3 linked regions of the Homo sapiens genome follow. The protein of the gene in region 2 interacts with the protein of the main gene of each other region in a biochemical or structural test. Each region holds a gene or a part of one and is shown on either strand. Other genes may lie near its edges.

Region 1 (8,244 bases), on a different chromosome or scaffold from region 2:
AGTTACTAACTAAGCAGTTAACCAACTAACTAAGTTACTGACATCTGTGTCCTACATTCTGTTTTGTGTAAGTGACAATAAAAATGGTACCTATTGCATCGAGTGATTTTCTAGGTTTAATTGGATTTTATATGAATATGCCTTGCATGCTGCCTAGCATATAGAAAACAAAAAGTTAACAGTAATCATTATTTTTATTCATTTTAAAGTGGAATCAGTTTGGAGTATAGTGCTAGATATTGAGATTAATAGTAACATATTATAACCAATTCACCACTGGTGCCACCAGTAACTCACAAATATGTATAACAAAAGACATAGAAACCCATCAATTATAACATATTATAGAAGTGTTTTTTCAGAATGTCAGATTTTTTTTTTTAATAGAATGTTAGATTTTTTAAAGCAACTGATTGGAGTTCTGTCTCTTTAAGGAATTCTCTATAACCTATAAGGAAGAGTATAGGAAAACCTCCCAGGGCCTGTATATTATAGAATTTTCAGAATTAATCATTTCATTTTGCCATGAAAAGGCATGCAAATCATGACTGCTCTTTGATTAAAGTTCATTAAAGCTTATATTGGCTCCAAATGCTTATTCTGCTTTTCTTTATTATTAAAGACCTAAAAGAAAATGAGAATAAACCTAGTATAATTTGGAAACAAAGAATTTTAAAATTTTATGAGAGCAATTTCATTAAAATTTTATGAGTCTTTTTTGCTTTTTAGAATAGCTGGTCAAAAATGGAAAAATACTAGGCCAACTTATTGGATTGTCAGCCATCCAAATGATAACATCAAAATAACATTAGCCAAACCTCTTTCAGGCGGGTGAATGATTGGTGAATGATTGGATCGTATATGGTACTAATTGATGGAATGCCATTCTCCGGGACTACGCTTAGCAGCATACAAATCAGGAGTGATGTAGTTATCTGTCCTTATCTGCCTGAATCACTGAATGTGGGAAACAGTCAATCCAGACTCTAGATCCTTTACAAATTCTGTGATATAAGGCATCTGAATAGAATGACCAATAAAAGCATTAGCAGTCCTGAACTGTAAAACCCGGAAGCAGCAATGGCGGCAGCAGCAGCAACAGCAGGTCTTATTGGTGGGACATTTGAGGTGCTCCAGACTGGAGGTCATTGGGATAGCAGGGCTAGCAGGAATAGAAGAGAGATTAGTGAAGCTGAAATGCCATAACTACCACAGAGAAGTTATGTTATCTAAGTATTTTAAGCCCTTATATATTTATAAAATTTATGTATTTCTGTGTTTAGTTATAAAAAGGGTAATTATTATTGCTATTTTGATAGTTTGGTTTTTTTTAATGCTTTTAATCATAATGTTCTTCAGATGTAGTACTGTGTAATGTTGTCCACCTATAAATAATGTATATGTCATCATTTTTGTGTAAATGTTCAACTGGAAAAGCTAAAGGCATATTCCACCCCATTCTACAAGTGGCACAGGGAATTACTTTACCTCTTACTTGGCCCTCAAGTATCCACATCTCTGCCTGTCTGTATGAATAACTTCTGCTGAAGTAAGTTTTAGTGGCACATAGAATGGAATACACCGTAATACCCCATCAGCAACTTGTTAATGCTCTAAGTTTGTCCAAAAGCATGTTCCCTGAAGCACAGTAGGTACAGTGTGTGCATTTAGTCAGGAGAGGCTACGCTCTGCTGTGGTAACAAATAAACTAAGTAGCTTAACATAACATGTTTCCTCCCATTCATACAAAGTCTCTTGTGAGTCTGAGTAACTTTCTAGGGTAGCTGTCTCCAGTGGTGATTCAGTAATGTAAGATGATTCAATTTCATCCTGCCACCATTTCAAGGTAAGTTCTCCTCTTTTGCCACAGAAAGGGCTTCAGAAAGACCAAATGATTTCTTAGGAATATTTCACTGCCTCAGCCCAGATGTGATACATATCACTTCTGCTCATATTTCCTTGGCTAGAATTAGTCAAGTGAATTCACATGACTGCCAAGGAGCTGGAAAGTATAGTCTCCCATATACCCAGGAATGAATATTGATGATACGATATTGAAGGAATATTGATAGGTACTGTCTCCCACAGTATGCAAGATAATTTTAAGTCATGTAGAAACAAACTTTTACGACTGTTTGGTTTTTGCATGTATTTGAAAAATACAAGTAGGACATGAAGCCTATGAGGTAATGGTTTCATTTTATATTAATTTAAGTTTAATTGCAGATACTATGTGTTATACTAAAAATGGTGAATGTGGTAAACAGATGCCTAATGTTTTGGTAACACTGCCCTAAAGGAACATCTGTCAAACACAAATCTTAGAACGTAAAATTTCAGGCAAACTGGGAACATGAGGTGGGGCATAGCAAGCTGTTCTTCAACAAGTACCTGAGGTTGATTCAACAGCAGATAGTATGGGATTGCCTCCTGGGAGGGCTTGTTGTAGAAGCTAGTTGATTTTCTGCTGTTGAAATTGGAGAACCAGTGATGGAACCCATCATGGGGGAGACTGCAGCTCCTGATGAGTACCCAATTTTCTTTTTTTATTTTTCTCCTTTTTCTACCAGACTGAGATTGCTCTTCATACAATGATGTAAGACTAGCAAGAATGAGAGATTTTGGAATAAAACCCTTGACCTGGCAATCAATTCCTTTCTAATTGGCATTTATCTTCTCCCCTGGTTTTCCTTGTTGTCTGATATTGTTCAAACTGCTAGCCTGGATCCTCTCAAATCAAATACAGTAACATCACCTGATATTGTTGGTAACTCCAAAGTTTTTCAGTCCACTAAAGCTCTTCCCTTACTGTTGGTGGTGAGTCAGTTGTTGTTATTGTTTTTAATTTTCTATTTCCATGTTTCCCAAGAGTATCTAGAAATGGCTCCCAAGGATTCAGATTTTGATGTTGTGATTTGTCTATAGTATTATTGATTTGTGTGTAATTATGAATAGAAGCCTCTTTTATTCTCAAAAAAAGTCTTGTTTAGATGATGAGCTATTTGATGACTCTACTTCTGAGGATTCTTCTTGTTTTATTTTATGATGTAAGTGACTAATTTGGTCCCAAAGACTCTTTATTCCATTGCTAATGCCACATAGGGGAAACTGAGACTATAGATAGTTTTCTTAACAGTCATTTTTTGGCATCATCTATATATTTTCTATAGGATAAAGATAAAGGTAAAAGGACATAAAGAGTAGTTAAAAGAAATAAGTAAGGACATTGACAACTGGCAGATAAGCCAAAGCACATTTTGAGGAATCTAAACAACCCATTATTCTGGCATTTACTTCTAAATTGCTCCAACTTAATCTGAAGGATGAGATGTAAAACCAAAGACAGATCTTGGCATTCATAACATATATTCTCTTGTCAACACTTTAGAGGTGCATATTTTGTGTACTAATGAAATGATTGTAATGTCTCACATTGTCTCAGTTCTATAGTAGAGTTAGGACAGGCACTATGCAATCTTAAGTAGAATTTCAGCTATGTGAGAGTAGCCATGAATTTGCAATAAAAGGTGTAGGCACCACATTTACTTTTCCTATAATCCTACTATTAGATAACACATATAAGAGCTGCTATTTATTTTGTCATTTGTTTCCATCCTAGAAGAAAGCAAAAGAGAATTTTGAAGGTACAATGTATCACATTTAGAGCAACCTTTAGGTCTGTAGCTCATCAGACTGGCTTTTAAAATATGCAAGCATTCCAGGTTAAAAGTCTCTAAATAACTTCATGTCATTTTACTGTTAAATAATGTTTAGAGTTTGCTATCTTTTGTAGACCTTGGAAATCTAATTATTTATAATGTCCAGTGACATTTACATTTTGCTAAATATACTCTGCTTGTACAAGAACATCTCATGATTAGAAAAATGGGTAGAGAATGCCTGGCTGTACATATGCTTCTATATAATGCAAAAATATCAGGGTGACACATGTTATCTTTTTGTTATAGTTTCGTGATTTTAAAACATAATTCTCAAAAAGTTTTTAACTATTAGCATTTAAAATACAGAATAAGAAAAAGTTATCATAGTTGAGATCAGTGTTTACCATTTAACTCTCCACTATCAAATCAAATATCTATTCAAGTTTATTGGTATCTTAACATAATACCATTCATTTCCATGCCAACAGCTCCTGAGTGTTTGGCTTAGTTTTTGAGATTGATTGAAGGTAGATTGTAAAGTTGACCTATTGTGTTAAGCTTATTTACACAAACACAGTGCCTTGGAAAATCAACTCTGGAAGTCCATAGCAGTTGAATCCTAAGGTATTGCACATCCTAAGTTTTCTAATACCTGCTTTATAGAAATCCCTTGGGTGGTGAATCTCAACTTTGCCAGTTACCTTACCTGGGGGAAATTACTTCAACATTCCTAAATTTGAAGTAAAATTTAGGAATTGCTTTAGGACAAAGGATTTGCCTTTAATTTCATTTGACCAATTTGCTTAAGTAAATAATTTATCATTTCTATCAAATTTATGAGACAGTCACAGATGAACTTTTTTTTTTCAGGCTCTTGAAACACACTTTTCTTAAAAGAGTTTAAAAATAACATCCCTAAGATATAAGCAATAGAAAAAGACTTAATTTTGAAAAAAACCTTATGGCAACAGTGAAAAACAGAATTTGGATTCTGGATGGTTACAAATAGATTATTTTCAAAAGAAGTTGGATTTATTCAACTTAGGTCAATTTATCTTGGTAAGAATTTAAAAGCGCTTTCTGATGCCACATCCTTGTCTGTCACCTATTCTTAAATAATCAGTCTATGTCATCACCCCTCCCGAACTCCCCATTTCCCCCATCAAAATGTGGACTTCTCTCCTGCTGCTGAGTAACGTGGGGCTGGTTATGACTGGGAGGGAGGATGGGAGCGAGGCACGTGGACCAGAAATACTTCCTAGAAACAGCAAGTACGCTGCTCAACCCTGCCTGAACTTTCCTGTAAACAGCCACTGACAGACTGCATCCCTGCTGGGTGGATCCTGCGACTCCTAGAGGGAATGGCACTTCTTGTTTTTAATTAGCAAGGTGAAAGGTGAATTAAAACTAGCAGTTTGGCAAGTCAGTGCAAGAGGCTGACTTCTGAGAGGCTTCCAGGAGCCCGAAGAGAGGACCTCCACGGGAGAAGGGAGTGCGTGTGCTCGGTTTTGTTTTTTTCTCTCTTTTTTTTTTTTTTTTCTGAATGAACAGCTTTGCCCAAGTGACTGAAAAATACAGCTTCTTCCTGAATCTACCGGCGTAGTTGCTGAAGAGCGCTCTAGACAGGACATGGCTCTGAAGACTCACTCTTTGGAATGTCCTCTTGCTCCCGGCTTATAAACAACTGTCCCGAGGAAAGAAAGGTTTTACATAGCCAAATACAGCCTGACAAATGGCACTTCGGAACTGTGCTTTCTGATGACAACGCGTTCGATTTCTGACAAAGCCTCTCGCACGCTGCCCCTGGAGGGAAGTCCTAAGTAAAACTCAGACCCTCCTTAAAGTGAGGAGCGAGGGCTTGGACGGTGAACACGGCAGCATGGCATCCGCGGGGCACATTATCACCTTGCTCCTGTGGGGTTACTTACTGGAGCTTTGGACAGGAGGTCATACAGCTGATACTACCCACCCCCGGTTACGCCTGTCACATAAAGGTAGGTTACCTTTCCAGATCCTTTTGTTTAAAAAAAAAAAAAAAGAAAAAGAAAAAAGAAAAAAAAAGTCGTTTAACATTAACATAGGCTTATGGTCTTCAAAGACCTTTAAAATGCACCTGAAAAATTTATTGCAAAACTGACCTAAAATTCTAAGTACCTCTGATTAATGTGTCATACTCACCTCATCTGAAAACAGTGCAAAATCACATGTCAACTTAGAGATGTTATTTTTGTCTGTAAACATTGGATTTTATCAATAAGGAGTTCACTCACTAGCCCGCGGAACACAGGAAGGGAGGAAGCAGGTTGAAAATAGCCTTGAGAGGCTGAATCCACCAAGTTAACAGTAGATATTTAAATATCAGTTTATGCATATGAGAAACAAGGATGCTGGGAAAGGGCTATAGAAATAGGGGTGCAATTTGTTCTTTTTGTTTTTGTTTTGTTTTGTTTCCATAATGGAGGTAAGAGGAGAAAATAAAAATCCCGAGGAGAAAAATGATGCCCTACCCATAACTGTCATCATCATGTAATTAAAATGATTAACAACTAATATAAATTAGTTTTCCAGTTGAATTGATTATTAGAATTTTTTCATGTGTGGCAAAGGAAAATAGTTTATGACAATGCTTGTAAAATGGCTAATATGGATTAAAGTATTAGTATTCACTAGCATTTGTAGTGTAAATTTATATTGCCTTAATGAAGATCTAACAGCAAATGTTTAAATATTTCATTCTACAATTGTCTTGTAAAGCAACATCATACTCATAAATAAATGATTAAAAGATAGATTTTGCATCAGGACCAATACAAGCCAGTCATGAATAGGTTTGGTAATTCCTCCTGTAAACAAACAAATAATAAACAAAACCATGCTCAGAGAAAGTGACTTTGCTGACTTAATATAAATTCGGAATAAATTGTCAGCAAAGAAGTATTTATTATCACTAGCCATTGACACATTGAGACAGATAGCAGATGTAATACTCAGGATTACATAAGAATCATTTTTCAATTGTGTAAGCTTTTAAATTGTCCCCCACTGTAGAAAGAACAGAAGCTTGTATTTTCTAAGTACAGGTAGAATATTTATCAGGAGAAACAAAAAGGGAGTCCTCAATTTTATGTGACACGTTTGGCCTTTTTGTCTTTTTATTGGACAATCTTCAGTAAATGTTGACTATAGAAATTTTTTCATTTTTAGAATAGTGGATGTTTTCTTAGTTTAAATAGATTTCCTATAATACTATCCAGTAGATAATATAAATTTAAGAAATCCATTGATACTAAATTGGTAAAGTGTTTAAAATATAGTGCCCAGAATTAACACTAATCTTTTAACTTGGGAAGATGTATCATGGTATGTATCAAAATGCCTATTTCTAAGAAGTTTATCATCAAAGATGTCAACATGTACAAATTTGATGTGATGGAATATGGACAAATAAAAATGCAAAAAAATATAATTGATTGTTTTTCTTATGTAGACAAGTAGATAAGCTGCCAGTTTTTGCAAGCTACAATTCTGTTATATCTAGTATTAACATTTTATACCCTATTATTGGGGTACTTGTGTTTTCATGGTTCAATATCAGTGTGTTTTCCAACAGGTCACATTTTAATATTTCATAAGAGAGTTAATAATTTGATCAAAAAATACCAAAGTTCTCTGATACAAGTAAATGTTATGCATAATACTATTATCGAGTTCATCTTTATTATGTCACTTATATTCAAAGAAATAATTGTAACTGATGTTATGAGTGGTGTCATATGGTGTGAGAGTAAAACCGCTAGTATCTATATGTACAATAGACTGAAAACTCCCACAGGATTTCCCTTAACTTTGAATTTAATGGAACCAGCTGAAAATGCACAATATGATGTTTTTATACAAAGGCAGAATAGAGAGAGTTACCTGAAAATAGAATGTTCCTACTTGTGCAATTTAGTTAGTAAAGTCAGTTAAGAGATCACACTGGAGATGCTACCTGAAGCAGCAAATGCCTACTGCACCTCAGGGGCCTCAGTGAAAAGAAGAGCATATATACTGTCAGAGGAGGGATATTCAGTCCCACCAATACAATATGAACAGCCCATTTATCTCTCTAGACTCTGGAATTCAGTGAATATTTTAGAAGTCTTCAAAAACTAGGAATAAGATATTACAGATTAATCTTTTGCTGACTTGACTAATGTCAGTAACGACAAGTGTTCAGTAGCGAGTGAATTAAGTAATTAATATTTAAATGAGTATATAATCTTTCAATATAAGAGGCACTAGGTATATGTCATATAGCATCTCTGTACCGCTGCCTGACCACTAGCAAGGAAATCCAGGAGGCTCCCTGGAGATAGCCTACTAGAATAATTCAGAAATTCTTTTCACAGTTAATGATCTAAGCTGTATGGGAGAAAGGCAGGCATTTTTCTCATATTCTTCACTTTTAAGATGAAAACACAAGCCTATTGTTTCTTCCCAAGGAGGAGGAGAAAGTTTATCATATACAGAGCGTGAGTTAAATTATATAAAAATATGTTCAGAAAAAAAATGTCCAGAGATTTGCCCTTTTCCTCTCCCC
Region 2 (7,931 bases):
CCAAGAAGCAGTGGCGCCGCCGTGGTCATGCAGATGGTTAGGGTCAGGCCTCTCAGCCCCAAGCAAGGGGCGCAGGGATGCAGCGGCTGAGAGCAGGGCCTGGACGCCTGGAGGCTGTGCAGCTGCAGGCCAGTGGCACACCACTCTGACCTTAAGTGTCCCCATCTGCAAAAGTGGGTTGATCAAAGGTCCATCAATGATAGACTGGATTAAGAAAATGTGGCACATATACACCATGGAATACTATGCAGCCATAAAAAAGGATGAGTTCATGTCCTTTGTAGGGACATGGATGAAGCTGGAAACCATCATTCTGAGCAAACTATCGCAAGGACAGAAAACCAACACTGCATGTTCTCACTCATAGGTGGGAACTGAACAATGAGAACACTTGGACACAGGATGGGGAATATCACACACTGGGGCCTGTCGTGGGGTGGGGGGAGGGGGAGGGATAGCATTAGGAGATATACCTAATGTAAATGACGAGTTAATAGGTGCGGCACACCAACATGGCACCTGTATACAAACGTAACAAACCTGCACGTTGTGCACATGTACCCTAGAACTTAAAGTATAATTTAAAAAAAAGGGGGGTTGCTAAGACCCCCCCCGCAGGGTTGCTCCCACGGGGAAATGAGACGGGTCCAGCCCCCGAGAAGCAGCAGTGATGGCTCCCGGCACCACCTAGGCCCATGGCTGGATTGCCAAGCCGTCCCTAGGACTCTTGTTTCCAGCACCTTCCTGTGGCTGAGGCGGTGCTCTAAAGCATTAACCTTGCAGGGGCATTTCCTGCAAGGAAACGTTCTCAGAGGCCAGGCCCAAGGGACGGGAGGGCAGGAGCCCCCTCCTCCCAGCGCAACCCTGGCCCCACTGTTATTTTTTCCAATTGAAGAAGAAAAACATTTCCTCTGTCTCCTCACAGCTCTGCCCTGGGCAGTCAGAGGTGAGAATGGACAGGACAGGGTGGGAAGCCCACCCAGTGGGGTGGAAGGCCCAGGCCCGCCTTCTCCGAGCCAGCATAGCCGTTGACCACCGTGCCCCAAGCAAGACTGCCCTGACTCGGCCACCAGGTCCTCGTCTTCAAAGGCACTGCTGGACATTTCCCAAATTTCAGGCATTTTGGTGGCATCTGGATTATCACCTATTTCACATTTGTCTTTAACTCACTTTTAAAGGACTTCAATCAATGCATTTATCAAGGAAGCTTTACATCATTACTGTACATGGAAAACCAGTAGCACTTGCCAAAACCAGAAAGTAACGGCAAGTACAAAGAAAACAAAGCGCTATCAGTACATTCTAGCACGCTGATGTCAACAGCCCTGAGTTTGAGACCTTCTCTCTATTAAAAAGAGACAGTGACAAATGTTACAGTCATTAAAGACATGTTAGCCTCAAACCAAGACCTTTTCCTTGATATAATCAGACTTGAACAAAAACTGAAAAAGGCCCAAATTGCAGTGTGAATAACCAACTAGGTCTGGCTATTCTGGGTTAGTTCATTCCAAGTTAGTTATTGCTGGGTCCCACCTAATCCCCACTCCTGAGTACCTTTCATCTCCCCTTGGTTCCCTCCAAAATTCCCTCTGGAAGAACACCTCATTGCATCTTAGTAAGGCCAGGGAAGGTGTGGTTTGTTCCTTCCTTTATTCATTCATTCAGCCAGTAATTGTCAGCACCTCCTCTGCCCAGCCAGGGGTATAGGGGCTGCCACCATGAGCCATCCTGGCCTGATGGTGCTCCCAGCTAATGGGTAGAAGGGAGAAATCATAAGATGTGGAGCCAGATCTGGGTTTCAATCCTTACCTTGCTAATGCCCCTCAGTTTCCCCATCTGTGAAATGGGTTTGCTGACCACAGCCTAGTCAGCTGGCTGCAAGGATGGTGTAAGATCTGGTAGGGCAGTGCTGGGCACAGGATTCACTCTCACCGTCTGGTGGCTCTGCTAGCCACATTGGGGCTCAGGACAGGAGGTGGAGCCCTGGTCTTTAGTTGCAATGCCCCCCACCCCAACTCCTGGCTCTAACATGGGCTTCAGGGGTCATGGTTCACTGCCACAAGGCGGGGAGAAACTGGTGTTTGCTAAGAGCCTTGTTGTGCTTGACACCTGTTATGTTATATTCTCCATCTCACACCCTCCCAGGGGCAGGTGTTCTGCTACGATTGTCCTCATTTTACAGTTGAGGAAACTGAGGCTCAGAGAGGGTGAGTGCCTTGCACAAGACCACACAGCACTTCTCACCTCCAGTTGATGTGAGGATACTCAGACCCGAATACCCTTCACCTAGAGAGCTCCTAAACCCCACTGCTCAGCTTGGCAGGGAGCTTGTGTCCCAAGTGCCCAGGATCATCACCACAGGCTGGTCTAAGACAACACTGAGCATTATCCTCACGGCTCAGTGGGGGGAGCTGCAGGATGCAGCAAGATGAACCAGATGAGCGGGAGACAGGAAGGAAGAGAGGAGGGGCTGGAGAGGGAGTGGGGGTGAGGGATAGGGAGGGAGACAGAGAGAGAGACAGAGATAGAGACACAGAGAGACAGATGAAGAGTGGAAAGGGAAGGGGGCAAGACACTGAGAGAAGGAGAGACAAAGAGAGTGAACGGGAGGAGCAAGACAGATAGGAACAGAGATGGGTGGGGGCAGGAGAGAGAGAGATAAGACAGAGAGACCAGCGGATGGACTGGGGTGGGGGCACTGAGGATGTGAGTGAGGAGGAGGGGCATGGAGGCAGGCCCCATGCACCCCTGCTGGGCTCTGCAGTTGGCCCCCACGGGTGGCACGATGTGCGCCTTCTCCATCCAGAGAGGAAGACAGGGACACAGTCCCACGGGCAGTCCCCTGAGTGGCTCTTGGTGGGTGGATGGGCCTGGGAGGGGGCCTCCAATTTCCTGCAGCTCAACACTCCCGGCCATCAAAGCAGTGGCCAGACCAGGGCTGAGGGGTCTGGAACAAGGCGGGCAGGATGGCAGGAAGGCGAGGGTGTTGAGGGAAGTGGGGGGCGGCTGCAGGCCCAGCCTTTCCTGCCGGCCCCATGGTGCACAGACACCCCTGCCCTTCCTTCCTGGTTGGGTGGGAAAGAGGAAAATGAGGTCCCGCTACTCTCAGAGTGAGGCCCACCGGGCACCCTGTGGAAGCTGGGGGTCTGATGGGAGGCCCCGTTCTGAGAGGTCGGAGCTGAAGGGCTTTTGCTTTCAAACACTGTAGCTCTGCTCCTCATGAGCTGTGCATCTTGGGCCAGTCCCTTCCCCTCAGCCTTGGTTTCCATATCTGGAAGATGGGTTACCAATAGCGCTCGCCTCGGGGGAATCTGTGAGGAAAAAGAGAGCCCGTACATGGCAAGTGCTTGGCACAGTGTCTGGCACGGGCTAGCCCTGTGTGAGCACCCCCGCAAAACAGCCACGGCGCATGGTCCTCACAGGGCTGTGACCTTGGAACCAGGCTGCCTGCCCCTAACGCTGCTTTTGAGATCAAGAACCCTGCCCAGTGCCGGCTTTTGTGGGACTAATCTTCCACTAAGCCTGGGAGGATGTCAGGGAAAGTGCCTGGCGGGGGTGCCAGGGGTGGGGGTGCGGCTGGGTCTCCACAGGAGGCAACTGTGGGCTCCAGGACCAAGGCCTTGCTCTGGCTATCGGTTGTGGGCCACTGGCTGGAACTATTTCCTCTCTCCATGTTTTCCTCATTTATATATCTGACCCTGAGCACTGGTCCCTCTGGCCCTGCCACTTGTAAATCCCTTTTATGGGTCTGGGGTTTGGGGGACAGATTATGGGGTCTGGGGGGCCCGACTGGCCGGCACCGGGGGAGCGAAGGCCTGGACAGTGCCTGAGAAAGGTGGTGGAGGGAGGCTGAGTGTGGAGGGGAGACACAGGGTTCGGGAAGGCAGAGGGAGAAGGAAAGGGGAGCTCAGAGGGACCGAGAGAGGGACGGAGGGTCCGAGGGGGAGGCAGAGGGAGCCACGGAGAGAGGGAGCGAGCGTCAGGGACGGAAAAACGGAGCAGGAGAGAGAAGGAGACTAGAAAGGGCCGGGGGCGGGGCTGCCAGGGACTGGAGAGCGAAGCGGAGTCGGAGGGAGAAGGAGAAGCAGAGGCAGAACCCGGAGAAGCGCCACACGCGCGGAGTTTGGGGTGGGGACAGAGACGGAGAGACGCAGAGACCGAGAGACGCAGAGAGAGGGAGAGACGGGGTGGGGGAGAGGGCGGAAAAGAGAAAACAGGCGCGAGCGAGGCAGGCCAAGCGGCCAAGTGGGAGGAAAGAGCGAGGAGAGCGAGCGACGGCGGCGGCGGCTACGGGGAGGGACCCTGGGGCCGCGGGCGGGTCCTGGAGGGCGCGGGCGGCGGGACCCGCGGACGGCGGGGCGTGGCCCAGGGCGGCCAGGGGCAGGCGGGGGTCCCGGGGGCGGGCGGGGCCGGGGCGGGGAGTGAGGGCGTGTCCGCAGCGGAGCCGCCCCCGCCCCGCCCCCGGGCTGCGCGGCGAGGCTGACCCGGGCCCGGGCGCCGGGGTCGGGGGCGGCTGGCGCGGGCAGGAAGCGCATCGCGGCCCGGGCCCGCCCCCCGCCTCCCGCCGCCTCCGGGCTCCCGGCTCCCGGCCGCGCCTCGCCCCATGCACTCGCCGCGCCGCGCAGCCCGCGCACGCCCGGATGGCTCCTCGCGCCGCGGGCGGCGCACCCCTTAGCGCCCGGGCCGCCGCCGCCAGCCCCCCGCCGTTCCAGACGCCGCCGCGGTGCCCGGTGCCGCTGCTGTTGCTGCTGCTCCTGGGGGCGGCGCGGGCCGGCGCCCTGGAGATCCAGCGTCGGTTCCCCTCGCCCACGCCCACCAACAACTTCGCCCTGGACGGCGCGGCGGGGACCGTGTACCTGGCGGCCGTCAACCGCCTCTATCAGCTGTCGGGCGCCAACCTGAGCCTGGAGGCCGAGGCGGCCGTGGGCCCGGTGCCCGACAGCCCGCTGTGTCACGCTCCGCAGCTGCCGCAGGCCTCGTGCGAGCACCCGCGGCGCCTCACGGACAACTACAACAAGATCCTGCAGCTGGACCCCGGCCAGGGCCTGGTAGTCGTGTGCGGGTCCATCTACCAGGGCTTCTGCCAGCTGCGGCGCCGGGGCAACATCTCGGCCGTGGCCGTGCGCTTCCCGCCCGCCGCGCCGCCCGCCGAGCCCGTCACGGTGTTCCCCAGCATGCTGAACGTGGCGGCCAACCACCCGAACGCGTCCACCGTGGGGCTAGTTCTGCCTCCCGCCGCGGGCGCGGGGGGCAGCCGCCTGCTCGTGGGCGCCACGTACACCGGTTACGGCAGCTCCTTCTTCCCGCGCAACCGCAGCCTGGAGGACCACCGCTTCGAGAACACGCCCGAGATCGCCATCCGCTCCCTGGACACGCGCGGCGACCTGGCCAAGCTCTTCACCTTCGACCTCAACCCCTCCGACGACAACATCCTCAAGATCAAGCAGGGCGCCAAGGAGCAGCACAAGCTGGGCTTCGTGAGCGCCTTCCTGCACCCGTCCGACCCGCCGCCGGGTGCACAGTCCTACGCGTACCTGGCGCTCAACAGCGAGGCGCGCGCGGGCGACAAGGAGAGCCAGGCGCGGAGCCTGCTGGCGCGCATCTGCCTGCCCCACGGCGCCGGCGGCGACGCCAAGAAGCTCACCGAGTCCTACATCCAGTTGGGCTTGCAGTGCGCGGGCGGCGCGGGCCGCGGCGACCTCTACAGCCGCCTGGTGTCGGTCTTCCCAGCCCGGGAGCGGCTCTTTGCTGTCTTCGAGCGGCCCCAGGGGTCCCCCGCGGCCCGCGCTGCTCCGGCCGCACTCTGCGCCTTCCGCTTCGCCGACGTGCGAGCCGCCATCCGAGCTGCGCGCACCGCCTGCTTCGTGGAACCGGCGCCCGACGTGGTGGCGGTGCTCGACAGCGTGGTGCAGGGCACGGGACCGGCCTGTGAGCGCAAGCTCAACATCCAGGTACACCCGGGCGGTGGCGGCGGCGGCGGCGGCGGCGGCGGCGGGGGCGGGGGCGGGGGCGGGCGGGAACCGAGCGGGTCGTGAGCTGAGTGGGTCACAGGTGGGAGCGCGCAGAGATCCAGATGTACGTGGAACCCAGGTGTGCACGCGAGAATACAGGTGTCCCCCGAGGGGTACTACTGGCGCCTGTATGGCCCAGGTGGGCATGTGCAGGGACTCAAGTGAGTGCCGGCTCATGGGCGCGCATACCTAGGCGTACTGGGAGGGGTCCAAGTTGCCACAGGTACCCAGGTGCGCATAAAGCCCAGGTATGCACGTGAGGGTCACAGGTGCATGCTGAGGGCGCAGTAAGTGACTGCATGCCTGACCAAAGTTGTGTTCTGGGGCCACTGCGTGAGCCTGTCAGAGTTACCATTGCACGTTGGTGATGGGTGCATGGGTGTGGCAGGTGTGCAAGGAGGCACACAGGTGTGCACCAGGGCCCTGCAGATGTCTGCATGGACTTGTGTGCCAGCAAGCTGGGGCCTGAAGACGCACAGGGCAGACAGGTGTACTGCACAGACACTGGTACAACGGGACAGGGCTAGGTGTGCAGTGGGATGTGCGTGGCAGGGGACGCAGGTATTTGGGCATGAGTCGGTACTCTGAGGAGGCTGCATGGTTGGCAAACAGGTGTGTGCCTGAGGCCAACTTTTATTCACCTATTCTGCAAATATTTCCTGAGCACCTAGTATGTACCAGGTGTGGGAGTCTGGGGTAAACAATAGCACTTGTGGAGTGCCAGCTAGGGGCATCACATGTCACAATTCCCAGTTCTCAGAACAACCCTCTCAGGTAGCCTCTATTCTCATCACATTTTACAGATGAAGAAACAGGCACAGAGAGGTTAAGCAACTTGCTGAGGATCACACAGTTGGGCACTAGCAGAGGTGGATTTGAATCCAGCCTGTCTGGCCTCAGCATCTGTGTTTTTAATGCCCAGCCTTTGCTGCCTTCTGGACTTGGATCTCAGAGTGCGTGTGTTTTGGGGGCGTCCCAGGCAGCTGGGGTGGGCAGATGCCAGGGCCAGGAGAATGGAGGGATGTGAACAGGGGTGTTTTGGGGGCAGGAGAGGGCCGTGGGGCTCAGTGGGGAATGAGGAGGAGTACAGGCAGGCATGGGGCCCAGGTGTCTGAGGCTGGGTTGGGCAGTAGCAAGGGGGGCCAGGTTGACGGAATCAGCATGTGTGTTGACATGACAAGGGTGCGGGAGGGGACTTGGTGTGGTTCCCTGAAAGGAAGTTCATGGCAAGGGATTGCTCCTCACACTGGCTTTGGGAGCTGGGTCTGTTGATCCCCATAGTTCACCCTGAGGAATGAGGCCCCAGAATGACACTGGGGCCTTTCCCACACCCTCCACCCATCTGAGTCTGGCGAGCCCACTTCAGCTCCACTGCCTGCCATTCCCTTAGGAAGCTGCATCTCCATCAGCAAAATGCAGAACTCAGCCTTCTTGTGGTGACCCAAGCCTTCCTTGGGGCCCCACCCTGTCCCTTCTCCATGGCTGTGACAAGAATTTCATGAGATTAACCATTCCTCTGTGGGCGGGCCCAACACTGGGGCTTTGAGAAAATGCAGATTCCTTCTCCCAAGGTCGAGGTCGGTCTCCCACGACTGCCCACCATCTGGCCGGCCACCCTGAAAGTAAAGGTCACGGTGGGTGAGCAGGGCAGACAGTCCAAAGGGTGGTGGGGCTGCTTGCCCTGTGCCATGGTTGGTTCATCCACCATCTCCACCCCAGAGCTTCATCTCGCAGGCAACTGTGTTTGGCACTGGGGGTCTCAGTGGGGAGTCGCTGAATGGAGAGAAGTGTCCTGTGGACTGAGGGCCTTCCTCCAGTAGTTTCAGGCCCTGTGTCTCGGCCCTTTGGTGTAAGCTGATCTGTGGGATTCCTTAGGCCAGCCCAGGGTTCCCTCCCCCTCTGGCAAGAACCATTCTGGTT
Region 3 (7,000 bases), on a different chromosome or scaffold from region 2:
ATGCCTGGCTAATTTTTGTATTTTTAGTAGAGATGAGGTTTCACCATGTTAGCCAGGCTGTTCTCAAACTCCTGACCTCAAGTGATCCACCTGCCTCGGCCTCCCCAAGTGTTGGGATTACAGGTGTGAGCCACCACACCCGGCCCTGGCCTCTGATTTTTTTAAAAAGTTAAATAAATGCAGGTGGCAATGCCCAAGACAGTCCTTGGCACACAGCGCATGTTCCCTTGTTTCCATAGTGATATACCCAGATATTTGGTGTACACTTAGCCTTGGTGAAGGGAGATGGCTCCAGCAACTGCTCCGTGTATAAAAGGGTGCTAGGCACATGTGGAATATAGGCAGCTATACCAGGTGTACGTCTGAGCAGGCGAGATTGGTGGGGTGGAGAGCACTAACATTTATTGGGCATTTACTATGCCATGATAGGTGTTTTTTCATGCACATTATGTATGTGTAGACTGTGCTCAGTGTGGGGGGTAGTACTCACACTGCCTGGCCGGGGGTTGGTCTCAGGGCCCCTATAAGTAGTCCAGCGTGAAGTTTCTTTGTTCAACTCTTTGTATTTCCCCTTAAAGACACGTTCAATGTCCAAGAGAGAGAAGGCACAAACCGCAGAGCTCCTGGTCCCGCCAACCTGCCTGGAGACAGCCAGAGGGAACATTGTCTGTGGTCTCTGCCACACCAGCAGCTCTCTCTCCAGCGCTGGCCCTCAGTGAGAAAACCCAGGAGGCAAGAGTGTGGAGAGCTGGGCCAGCCTCCAGCTACCACTCCTTCCCCTCACTGTGTTGATAAGGGCCAAGGGAGCCCCATGGAATTCCCTGACTCTGGCCCAGGGCCTGGCTCTAGGCCCATCTTGGGATCTGAAGTCTGATTATCCTTAATGAGAATTAATTGGGGCTCAGGCCCTGGGGTGGCCCCTGCCTGTCCTGCCTACACTGGGCTGCACCCATTGGAGGGACAGTGTAACCAGCTCTAGCCTGGCTCCACACAAACCCCTCTTCCTTTGAGTCTCTTGGATCCCTGGTCCTCAGAGAACCGACCAGTGCCTGACTACCAGACTGTTATTATTCCTCAACCCTGGTCTGTGGAGACAGGAGGTCTGTTTCTCTGCTCTCTTGAAGCTGACTACTGTATACACCAGGCTCTCAATTCTGGATCCTGTGGATACCAGATCCCACTTACCCCAAATACCTTTGGTACCTGACACATTGTCAGCAGGTACCTAAACACTGTGGGGCCAGACCATGACTCGGGGACCTTGGACAAATTGGTTAACCTTTCTCAACCTTCAAGCAATGACTTTATTTTTATTTATTTTTTTTGAGACGGAGTCTCACTGTGTTGCCAGGCTGGCGTGCAGTGGTGCGATCTTGGCTCACTGCAACCTCCGCCTCCCGGGTTCATGGGATCCTCCTGCCCCAGGCTCACGAGTAGCTGGGACTACAGGCATGCGCCACCACACCTAGCTAATTTTTGTGTTTTTAGTAGAGACGGGGTTTCACCATATTGGCCAGGATGGTCTTGATCTCCTGACCTCGTGATCTGCCCACCTCGGCCTCCCAAAGTGCTGGGATTACAGGCATGAGCCACCGCACCCGGCCGACTTTATTTTTATCTTCTGATACGGATAGCGTTTCCCTGTTTGCCCTGGCCATTAGGAAATGCAGAGCTAAATTTGTGGCTGGCATCCAGGGACTATCCTACATCTTATGACAAGCATTTGTAGTGTGTTGGCCTTACCCTTGGCTTCTCATATTCTCCTTTTATTCCCATTTCTGTATCTATTTTATCGATTTTAATATTTGCCTTTTGTAAAATGCTTCCTATCCCTTTTGGAACTAGGCAGAATATAAACTAGTTAGAACCTCTCTGCGTCTTATTTTTCCCATTTACAAAAAGGGCATGAGTCAAATTCCTGAGAGGTGGTGACGATTTAATGCCTTCCTATGTGAAAGTGCTGAGTAGGTGCTGGCTCATGTCAATTCCTGCCTCCGCTCACGAGCTGGGGCCTCACTGGCGTCAAGTCCCGTGTCCAGCCCCCATGGTCCAGCCCTGCTGCTCACCACTGGGAGGTGAAGACTGCGTAGATGTGGGGAGCTGTGGGAGAATCGGCGGGGAGCAGGACCGCGTGGCGGATGACGTTGAAGGGCAGCTGCCCCGGCTGGGTGCAGAGCAGCTGGGCCTTCAGGAAGGTGGTCCACTTCTTCTGCAGCAGCTTTTCGCCGCCCACGTCATTCTGGGGGCACAGGGGGAGTCAGGGGGCGCCCCGGGCGCCCCGACCCCCCAGCCCCGCGTGTCCTCCCCGCCCCCCGCAGCTCGGCGTGTCCCCCCAGTCCCCGCCAGCCCCGCGTGTCCCCACCCCGCCCCCTCAGCCACGCTTGTCCCCCGCCCCACCCGCCCAGCCCCGCTGTCCCCCGCCCCACCCCGCCAGGCCCGCTTGTTCCCCGCCCCGCTCCCCCGCTCTCACTGGGGGCCCACCACTCAGTCCTGCCCCTGCCATCTCCCTATTGGTTCTCCTCCAGTTAGCCCCGCCCCCCGCCCAGGCCGCGGACCTTGCAGACTCTAGCCACCCGCGATGTGTGGAGCCTCTCAAAGAAGTCAAACTCGCTGGCTGTCTCCTCGAAGAAGAAGTAGACGACCTGGGTCGAAGGGATGGCTGCCACAAAGGAGGCGTCATCTGCGGGGGAGGGGCAGATGGGCTTAGGGACTGAGCCCCTGCATGCCCTGGGTTTGCCTGAGTGAAAACCGTTGGTTTGGCCCTGGAGGCCAGGACACACAGGCTTCCTCGGGTCCCACAGCTTGTCGAGGGGTAGCGATGTGGGGTGGGGATGACTGGTACTTCTTTAATGTGTTTACATAAGACGAAAGCTTCAAGAGAACCGGAGCTTTGCCTTCTTCCCTGCCATATACCCCCTGCGCCTAACAGTAATGGACACATTGTACCTTCCGCAAATGAAAGTTGAGTGAATTAGCAAGGTCACCAGGACTCAGGAAAGGAGGCCAGCGGGGGTCAGGTCCTTACGATGCAGCCAGCGGAGGAAGTTGTCGGTCTTGAGGACAGGCTGGGATCCCAGTGTGCGCATCAGGATGGGCTCACTGCCCAGGAAGTTGTTCATAGTACCAGAATAGAGCATCCCATCTAGGGTGGAGGAGAGGAGAAGAGAGAACTGATGGGGTGGAGGGTTCCTCTGCCCTCCACAGACCTGCCTCTGACTGGGGCTGGCATCCATATCAGTCTCGGGGGCCCTGCATCAGTTCTGCACCTTCCTGGGGAGCCTCAAAGGCCAGCTCCCCCTCCTCACTAAGCACCCCTCTTAGCTTCCTCTCTCCACAGGAAATGGCCATCCTGTGTGGCCCTCCGTGTTTGGGCACTTTTCCAGCCTTTCTGTGGCTACTTCGTCACATACCTAGCTGAACCACTTGCCAAGTAGAATCACTTACTGATCCTGGAAGGTGACTGTGTTTTCCACTTCCACACCTTGGGTCCTACCCTTCTCTCCCTGGAACACCTTCCCTGCCATCTGTCTACCTATCTTTTCAAGGTCCTGCTGAAAAGCCGAAGGCCATCTCCTCCAGGAAGGCAGGTGGGAAGTCTGTAATGGTTGGTGTCCAGTAGTGCATTGATACATGGTTTCTCTCTCCCTTTTTTTTTTTTTTTTTTTCAAGACAGGGTCTTGCTCACATCCAGGCTGGAGTGCAGTGGTGCCATCACAACTCACCGTAGCCTTGACCATCTCAAGCGATCCTCCCACCTCAGCCTCCCAAGTAGCTGGGATCACAGGCGCTTGTCCGGCTAATTTTGTTGTTGTTGTTTTTGTTTTGTTTTGTTTTTAGTAGAGACGAGGTCTCACTATACTATTGCCCAAGCTGGTCTCAAACTCCTGGGCTCAAGTGATCCACCCGCCTCAGCCTCCTAAAGTGCTGAGATTTCAGGTGTGAGCCACTGCACCCAGCCTGATTTCTTGTTTATAACTCCTATACTACCCAGCACAGTGCCCAGTACACCAGAGGAAGTGTTCACACAATTGTTGAACAGTGGCTCAGTCTCAGGCCTCTTCTCTACCCAATACCCTTCCCGGGCCCTCGTGCCTCTGTCTCTCCACATGCATCTTTCTCCACCACTTTTTGTGGCAATTTCAGCAGGAGCTGGTGGTTGGGGTGCTTAATTCTCCCTCTGATCTTGTGTTCTGAGGCTTCTGGCTTCCCTCTCTCTCTCTGTCCTCTGCATTTTCTGTTTTGTTTTGTTTTGAGACAGAGTCTTGCTTTGTTGCGCAGGCTGGAGTGCAGTGGCGCGATCTTGGCTCACTGCAACCTCCACCTCCTGGGTTCAAGCAATTCTTGTGACTCAGCCTCCCGAGTAGCTGGGACCATAGGTGCGCCCTACCACGCCTGGATAATTTTTGTATTTTTAGTAGAGATGGGGTTTCACCATGTTTACCAGGCTGGTCTCAGACTCCTGGGGTCACATGATCCACCCACCTCAGCCTCCCAAACTGCTAGACTGCTAGGATTACAGGCATGAGGCACTGAGGCTTTTTTTTTTTTTTTTTGAGACGATCTCGCTGTGTTGCCCAGGCTAGACTCAAACCCCTAAACTCAAGCATCCTTCAACTTCAGCTTCCAAATAACTGGGACCATATGCACGCATCACCACACCCAGTTTCCCCTGCCTTTTGGAAAACTCTGTAATATTCCATATTTCACAGCGTGACTGGAGAAAGTAGATGTTGGGATGAAGTGGGAAACCTGATACTCACCCACCAAGACAGCCGTATGCTTGTGAGCGGGGTCAAAGGGGCTTTGGCCTTTTCCCTCCATGACCTTGTCCTCCGAGATGGGCAACAGGTAGGAATCTTGAAGTTCCTAAATGGGGAGAGAGGCTGGGGGGCCAGAACGCCAAGGTCTCACATCTGGGAAATGAGGGGCTTGAGGAAGGAAGGGAAAGGGACATAGAGGGAAATTGGTCTGGGGCCAGGAAGTTCATGAGGGTCCTGCATCTGGAAGGCCAGAGTTTTCCAGAGCTACAGAGGAAAGTCGTGGGTAGATGTGAGAAGGGATGCTTGGGGGCCTGAGCGCTGGGCACCAGAGAACTCACAATGAAGGTACAAGCAGGGCTGAAGGCGAAGGTGCCGCAGGTGTAGAGATGGGTGACATTGTAAGAAACCAGGACACGGATGAAGTTGAAACACTGTGTCTGAGGGAGACAGAGAATTTAGGTCTCCAGGCCACCTGACTCAAATTGCTGGACCCCCAGAGGCTGCCCCCTCACTGAGGAGAAAGGCTAGGTAATGCTGGGGCAGTCCCTGTACGCCTCTGTAGAACATAATCCAGGAGATAACCGTGCAAACAAGTGCCCTCCACTGCCGCCCAACCTGAGGTCATCCAGGGATGGTCTAGGGATGCCAGAGCTCTCTACCCACTCTACCCCTACTCCCCCACCTCCACTTACCTCATTGCTCTTCTTCTTAAAGGCACATTCACTCTTTTTTCTGTCACTGGCTGGCCACGGTATCTGAAAGTGGGGAGTTGGGAGGGCGAGATGAAAAGAAATAAGGTCCTCAGTTCTAGCTGTGACCTGCCTCCCTTCTCTGCTCTGATGTGAAATAACCAGCAGACATGGTGGTTAGTGACATGCTGATGGGCAGTAATAACATCAGTTTGTGACCATGGCTATTACTTGAATAATACTGGTATCAGACATAGCTCCATAGTTGAACACAGCCTAAGGAATCAGACAGACCCAAGTTTAAATCTAGACTTGGCTATTTCCTGACTGAGAGATCTTGGTCAATTTCATAGGCTACTGGCAGATACAACCAGGTGGCATATACAAAACACCTAACACGATGAATGGTATATATGGCAGCAGTTGTCAAACCGCACATTTCCTGGGGAAATTGTTTAACAAGTTGGTTCCTGGGTCACGCCTTAGAGAATCTGCATTTTTAACCAGCATCTCATATGTGCAGGTGGTCAGCAGACTACACATCAGGATACATGAACCATGGAGGTGATTGCTAATATTGCTAGTGCCTTCTCTCCCTTTCTTCCTTCCTTCCTCACATTGTTCCCATTAATAGGGCGACTAAGACAGAAGCAGCCAGGCACAGTGGCTCACACCTGTAATCCCAGCACTTAGAAAGCCTGAGGCGGATGGATCACCTGAGGTCGGGAGTTCGAGACCAGGCTGACCAACATGGTGAAACCCCGTCTCTACTAAAAACAGAAAAATCAGCCATGCCTAGTGGCGGGCGCCTGTAATCCCAGCTACTCAGGAGACTGAGGCAGAATTGCTTGAACCCAGGAGGCAGAGGTTACAGTGAGCCAAGATCACGCCATTGCACTCCAGCCTGGACAACAGAGTGAGACTCCATCTCAAAAAAAAAAAGACACAGAAGCATCAGTGATTTCTACTAGTGGGTAGATATCAAATTATTGATATAATTTGAGTCAGTGTTTATCTCATATGTCAATGATTTCCATATCAGCCATTTTTGCAATTAATATTATTCAATCACTATTCACAATACCAGTGAAGAGTGAAGTCACAGGCCGGGTGCGGTGGCTCACGCCTGTAATCCCAACTCTTTGGGAGGCTGAGGCAGGCGGATCACCTGAGGTCAGGAGTTTGAGACCAGCCTGGCCAACATGGTAAAATCTCGTCTCTATTAAAATTAGCCTGGCATGGTGGTGCATGCTAGTGCCAGCTACTTGGGAGGCTGAGGCAGGAGAATTGCTTGAACCTGGGAGGCGGAGGTTGCAGTGAGCCAAGATCGTGCCACTGTACTCCAGCCTGGGCAACGGAGCAAGACTCCATCTCAAAAAAAAAAAAAAAAGTGAGGCCACGACATTTCCTGTCTGTTATATTGTCACGATATACATATAAAGAGAACTGCTGATTACAGATAACAGCAACTAAGTTATTCATGCACAGGCAGCCAAGCCCAGGGTAGCTGCCGGCCCCCTCTTCACTCCCAGCCCACACTCTTTATCCCTG

Evidence for each region.
Region 1: the proteins of PLXND1 (region 2) and SEMA3E interact in a biophysical measurement, tested with the Homo sapiens proteins (one study listed by IntAct).
Region 3: the proteins of PLXND1 (region 2) and SEMA4A form a complex in vitro, tested with the Homo sapiens proteins (2 studies listed by IntAct, with this or other methods).

The regions. Positions count from the first base shown.
Region 1 is NC_000007.14:83,645,840-83,654,083, reverse strand, and holds the start of SEMA3E (semaphorin-3E isoform 1 precursor), read left to right. Parts: upstream 1-4,944; 5' UTR 4,945-5,541; coding exon 5,542-5,656; intron 5,657-8,244. UniProt on the Homo sapiens protein: Plays an important role in signaling via the cell surface receptor PLXND1. Mediates reorganization of the actin cytoskeleton, leading to the retraction of cell projections.
Region 2 is NC_000003.12:129,603,349-129,611,279, reverse strand, and holds the start of PLXND1 (plexin-D1 precursor), read left to right. Parts: upstream 1-4,603; 5' UTR 4,604-4,640; coding exon 4,641-5,951; intron 5,952-7,931. UniProt on the Homo sapiens protein: Cell surface receptor for SEMA4A and for class 3 semaphorins, such as SEMA3A, SEMA3C and SEMA3E. Plays an important role in cell-cell signaling, and in regulating the migration of a wide spectrum of cell types.
Region 3 is NC_000001.11:156,156,585-156,163,584, reverse strand, and holds part of SEMA4A (semaphorin-4A isoform 1 precursor), read right to left. Parts: intron 5,516-7,000; coding exon 5,453-5,515; intron 5,198-5,452; coding exon 5,099-5,197; intron 4,884-5,098; exon of another isoform or gene 4,867-4,883; coding exon 4,761-4,866; intron 3,143-4,760; coding exon 3,026-3,142; intron 2,681-3,025; coding exon 2,556-2,680; intron 2,240-2,555; coding exon 2,067-2,239; intron 642-2,066; coding exon 491-641; intron 1-490. UniProt on the Homo sapiens protein: Cell surface receptor for PLXNB1, PLXNB2, PLXNB3 and PLXND1 that plays an important role in cell-cell signaling. Regulates glutamatergic and GABAergic synapse development.